Regions from separate parts of the Homo sapiens genome. Here region 2 is linked to region 1. The links come from fine-mapping of genetic effects on gene expression. Tissue or cell type: whole blood. Region 1 holds a variant in brackets; the other region holds the start of a gene. All regions are shown on one strand. Distances are between the middles of the regions.

Region 1 (2,682 bases):
ATTTATCCTGGACCGGGTCTGTTTCTGAGCTCCAGCCTGGGAGACAGAGCAAGACTCCATCTCAAAAAAAAAAAGAAAAAGAAAAGAAAAGCTACAGTCTTGAAAAATGGAAAACACCCGACTAAACAAGTTTCTAAAACAATTCTGAGTTCCTAAGTCGTAAAACTGTTTTTAAAAGGATATGTTGAAGATGAAATATAGGATAGTAGTTCCTAGGAAGGAATCCAGAAAGAAGGCAGGATTGGAGAGGGCACACCTGAGTGTCAGTGATGTGATGGGTAATGACGTATGTTTGATATTGGTTGTGTTTACATGGGTGTTAATTATCTCACACAAGTTACAAATATATTTTACACATTATGTTTAATTCTTTTTTAATGCAATTTTTTTTTTTTGAGACGGAGTCTCGATCTGTGGTCCAGGCTGGAGTGCAGTGGTGCGATCTTGGCTCACTGCAACCTCTGCCTCCCAGGTTCAAGTGATTCTTCTGCCTCAGCCTCCTGAGTAGCTGGGATTACAGGCGCACACCACCATTCCCAGCTAAGTTTTGTATTTTTAGTAGAGATGAGGTTTCGCCAGGTTGGCCAGGCTGTCTTGAACTCCTGACCTCAAGTGATCCACCCGCCTCGGCCTCCCACAGTGCTGGGATTATAGGCGTGAACTACTGCACCTGGCCTTTAATGCAAATTTTAAAAATATAATTTCAACTTTTATTTTAGATCCGGGGATACATATACAGGCTTGTTCCGTGTCTATTGTGTGATGTTGAGGTTAGGGTATGAGTGATTCCCGTCACTCAGGTAGTGAGCGCGGTACCTACAGATAGTTTTTCAGCCCTGGCCCTCCCCCAATGTTTAATTCTTCATGCTGTGAAATATTTCATTATTTATGTGTGATGTAAAGTAATCCCCCCTTAACTGAAGCTTTGCTTTCCAAAGTTTTAGCTATCTGTGGTCAACTGCAGTTCAAAAAACTTACATAAAATATTTTCAATGAGAAAGACCACATTCACATAACTTTCATTACAGTATGTTGTTATAACTGTTCTATTTTATTATTATTGTT[G/C]CGAACTTCTTACTATGCCTGATTTATAAATTAAACTTTATTACAGATATGTATGTATAGGAAAAAGCATAGTACAGACAGTCCTCTACTTATAGTGGTTTGACTTCTAAGTTTCCAACTTTACGACAGGTTTCTAGGGACCTAACTCCATCATCAGTGAACTCCTTACCCTTTATGATGGGATTACGGTTTCTACTGAATACTCATTGCTTTTGCACCATCACAAAGTCAAAAGTAAATTGGGACTGGGCGTGGTGGCTTACGCCTGTAATCCCAACATTTTGGGAGGTGGAGGTGAGAGGATCACTTGAGGCCAGGAGTTTGAGATCAGCTTGGGCAACATAGTGAGACCCTGTCTCTATAGAACTAAAACATTAGCCAGGTATGGTGGCGCATGCCTGCGGTCTCAGCTATCCGAGAGACTGAGGTGGGAGGATCACTTGAGCCCAGATCAGGGCTGCAGTGAACAATGATTGTGCTACTGCACTCCAGCCTGGGTGACAGAGCAAGACCCTGTCTCAAAAAAAAAAAAAAAAAAAAAATTGTAAGTTGAACCATTGTGAGTCAGGGACAGTCTACTGTGTTGCCAGCATTAAATGCCTTTTGAACTTAGGATATTTTGACTTACAACGGGTTTATAGGAGTTCGACCCCATCATAAGTGGAGAAGCATCTGAATATACAGAGTTTGGTATGATCTGTGGTTTCAGGTATCCGCTGGAGCTCTTGGAACATATCCCCTGCAGATATGGGGGACTATTGTGTGTGTGTGTGTGTGTACGTACACACATATATACGCACATTATACATTATATGTATATGATATATATGTGTGTGTGCATATATATAGAGCCTCTGATCCATATCTTTTATATATATATATATTTTTTTTCTTCCCTTCCCCTTCCCCTTCCTCTTTCCTTCCTTCCTTTCCTTTCTTCCTTCCTCCCTCCCTCCCTCCCTCTCTCCCTCCTCTCTCTCTCTCTCTTTTGCTCTGTCACCCAGGCTGGAGTGCAGTGGCGTGATCTGGGCTCACTGCCACCTCTGCCTCTCGGGCTCAAGCGATTCTCCTGCCTCAAGCTCCTGAGTAGCTTGGATTACAGGCGCACACCACCACGCAGTTAATTTTTTTTTTTTGAGACCGAATCTCACTCTCTTGCCCAGGCTGGAGTGCACTGGCGTGATCTCAGCCCCCCAGGTTCACGCCATTCTACTGCCTCAGCCTCCCGAGTAGCTGGGACCACAGGCACCCGCCACCATGCCCAGCTAATTTTTTTGTATTTTTAGTAGAGACGGGGTTTCACCATGTTGGCCAGGTTGGTCGGAAACTCCTGACCTCGTGATCCACCCACCTCAGCCTCCCAAAGTGCTGGGGTTACAGGCGTGAGCCACCGTGCCTGGCCTCTATACACATATTTTCTGATTAGGTGCAAAGCAGTGTGTTATAGGCGTGTCAAGAGCCTCAAGTGGCCAAGTGCAGTGGCTCACGCCTGTCATCCTAGCACTTTAGGTGTCTGAAGTGGGAGGGCCCTTGAGCCAAGGAGTTTGAGACCAGCCTGGGCCACATAAGGAGACCTCACCTCTATTACATTTTTTTTTCTTCTGAGACGGAGTTTCA
Region 2 (2,682 bases), 240 kb before region 1:
AGAGCTTGGAAAAGATGAGATAAACGTGGAGTGAAAGCAAACTAGAAACTTAGAAACTTAGAAACTAAGCCCATGTTAAGGTGGCCGGGATTATTTAATATAATGAAGTCTATCTGGAGGCCGGGGAGAAAAGTAGGATGAGGGCATTAAAAGGTACAAGAGTGGTGGTCTGTCTTTAACGGGGAAAACTGTCAAAAGTTGAATGAGTGAGGCAAACTACCTAGTTGTTTGAAAAGTGGATCACGGAAGTGGGATGGGTTAAGGAGCAGAACTTCGATCCAAAGAAAAGAGAATCTTTATCTTGGGGGGAGGTGAGGAAGATACTGACTGGAGCCGTGGAAAGGCGGGCTGGTGAGGCGAAGCTTCTGACTCAGAAGCTCGGATGAGAAACACCGCGAACGACGCCGGGGAGCGGGACTGGGGGCAGCGGTGTGGCCCGGGGCTCTCTCACCTTGGCCTTGTAGCTGGGCAGGTTGCACAGGATGTCCGTGCGCAGAGCCTCTTCTGCCAGGCTGCGGGCGCACAGGCTCCGCCACACCTCGCTGTTCTCATCGCCGTGCAGGCAGCGGTACCAGTGCTTGCACACCAGGGCGCAGCTCCGCAGCTCGGACAGCTCCAGGTAAGAGAACACCAACTCCAGCACCCGGCTGGGCAGCCGGCCCCCGGCCCCCGCGGCCCCAGAGCCCGAGCCCGCGCCCGCGCCCGCGCCGCCGCCGCTACAGCCAGCGCCGCCCGAGGCTGCCCCAGCCCCCGGGGCCGGCGCCGCCATCGCCTCACCAGCCGGCCCTAGGGCCGCCGCTGCCGCCGCCGCTTCCCGCCGTCTCTGCTCGGAAGGCCAAGCCTCGCCCGGAGACCGGAGCGGCTCGCTCACCGCCCCTGTCAGTGCCAACCGCCGGCGCCTCCACCACTCCCGCCCCTGCCCGGGGGCGTCCGCCGCGCGCCCCGCCTCACTGAGGGCAGACGCACCGGCTGCAGGGGCGTCCTCCGCCCCTCCTCCGCGGCTCAGCGCGGGCGCCGAAACCGCCCGACTCGCCCGGCCTCTCCGCGGCGCGCCAGCGGCTCCGCCATGCGGGTTGAGGGCACGAAGCAAGGGCGCACGCCCAGCTCGTTCGCGGTTCCTCTCGGCCCCGGATGTGACTGTTTGGCTGCGCCGCCTCACGCCTGACGCTCGACGGGATTGGGCGCCGGCGGGTGAGGTTATCACTAGGCGCCGAGGAGGGGAGCGGGAAGCGCAGGTATGAGGCTGGCGCCGGTGGCTTCGATGCTGCTTTCCGGTGACTTCGATGCTGTTTTCCAGTGCTTTTTCCTTTTTCTGGTCTGGTGGCTCCGCGTCTGCTCTCCTGGGCTCCCTTTCCTGTGACGTTTCCCTGTGTCCGTTAGGTCCTTGCTTCAGACTCCAGCTCAACGCATGAAACTTTTCTCTCCTTGCTTGCCGGGTCCTGGCTCCCCAACCTTTTTGTGTAGCTTGGGCAGCGGAGGCCGTCTTTACCTGGTCAGGCCCTCTCGTTCTCCCTAAGTATCGGCACTTAGCGAACGTCTGTCCCTGTGTGCCTTCGCAAAGTAAGGTGGCTGCGACTGAACACCCCCTCGCCCAAACGTTCGAGTGCCATTTGAGCGCTAATTAAGTGCTGCCGTCTTTTGGACAAGATGTGGTCTTTACTGGATCCACCGCTTAGTAAGCAGATGAAGGCAATGTAGTTTTAGTCAATTAAACATTCCAATAGGGAGAATGACGTGGAGGCTATAATTATAGATGGATTCTTGGAAGGGGAAGAATTTCAGCATCCCAGCTTGGGCAACATTGCGAGGCAGTGTCGCTACAAAAAAATAGAAAAATTAGCCGAGGGTGGTGGCGTGCGCCTCTGGTCCCAGCTACTTGGGAGGCTGAGCCCGGGAGGTCGAGGCTGAGGTGAACCGTAATCGCCCTGCTGTGCTCCAGCCTGGGCGACAGAGTGAGCCCCTACCTCACACACACACACACACACACACACACACACACACAAGAATTTCAGCATTATTTGATTATACTACGATTTCCTAGGTGGCCCCAAAGTTTTCCGACAGCCTTTAAAGCATGCTTAGTAAGAGAATAATAATAACCATCATTTGAGCCACGGTGTGAACCAGGCACTGTATACTACGTCATTTACGCAGATTTTTATATACGTAATCCTCAAAACAACTCCATGAGCTGAGTAATTAAAATAATAGGGTTCACAGACTCCCTTGGTCAACTCCAATGTCTTGGAACCTTTATGTAGTAAGAAATCTTTTCTGAAGCTTCTTGCTATGTATAATCCATTTCTTAGTCTCTAGTAAAAGCAAAGGAACGGTGGCTACCTTCCCTACCCTCTGATTCATGGTGTTTGATTATTATTTGCCTGTCCCTTCTCCTCATGTCTTTTTCACCAAGTCCAGTAACCCTAATTCTTTTCATTCTTACCAGTGCCAGCGCCACAGCCCTTCAATCATTTTGGTTGCTATCCAGCTTCTCCACATCAAGTCCAACTTCAGAAACCCCAAGCCTGTAGAGAAAAGTTGACCTGTGCTGACTCTGGTGATGGTGACTGTCTCTCACTAATTTCTTTGAAGTCTTCAAGGATAAGCAGAGTTGATCCATCTGAGAAAGGGATCATGAACTAGACAGAATGAACAGCCTTAGAGGCACAGACTCTTGAACGG

Evidence for each region. PIP is the estimated chance that this variant, and not a neighbour inherited with it, causes the effect.
Region 2: FBXO45 starts here. The variant in region 1 is fine-mapped to the expression of FBXO45 in whole blood (TOPMed, PIP 0.91).

Annotation. Positions count from the first base shown.
Region 1 is chr3:196,331,774-196,334,455 of GRCh38, reverse strand. The region is part of intron 1 of TM4SF19 (transmembrane 4 L six family member 19); the gene reads left to right. All of the region lies in intron 1 of TM4SF19-DYNLT2B (TM4SF19-DYNLT2B readthrough (NMD candidate)), which reads left to right. Among named protein-coding and RNA genes, the nearest start is that of TM4SF19, 5.3 kb to the left of the region's middle. The variant G/C (reference allele first, on the strand shown) is at 1,066.
Region 2 is chr3:196,567,072-196,569,753 of GRCh38, reverse strand. FBXO45 (F-box protein 45) reads right to left here and starts at 1,094. Exons shown (of 3, transcript NM_001105573.2): 1 at 452-1,094. The coding sequence starts at 769. It overlaps WDR53 (WD repeat domain 53), which reads left to right and starts at 1,200. Exons shown (of 4, transcript NM_182627.3): 1 at 1,200-1,235; 2 at 2,447-2,682. RefSeq lists silencers at 182-476, 598-1,137 and an enhancer at 1,859-2,682.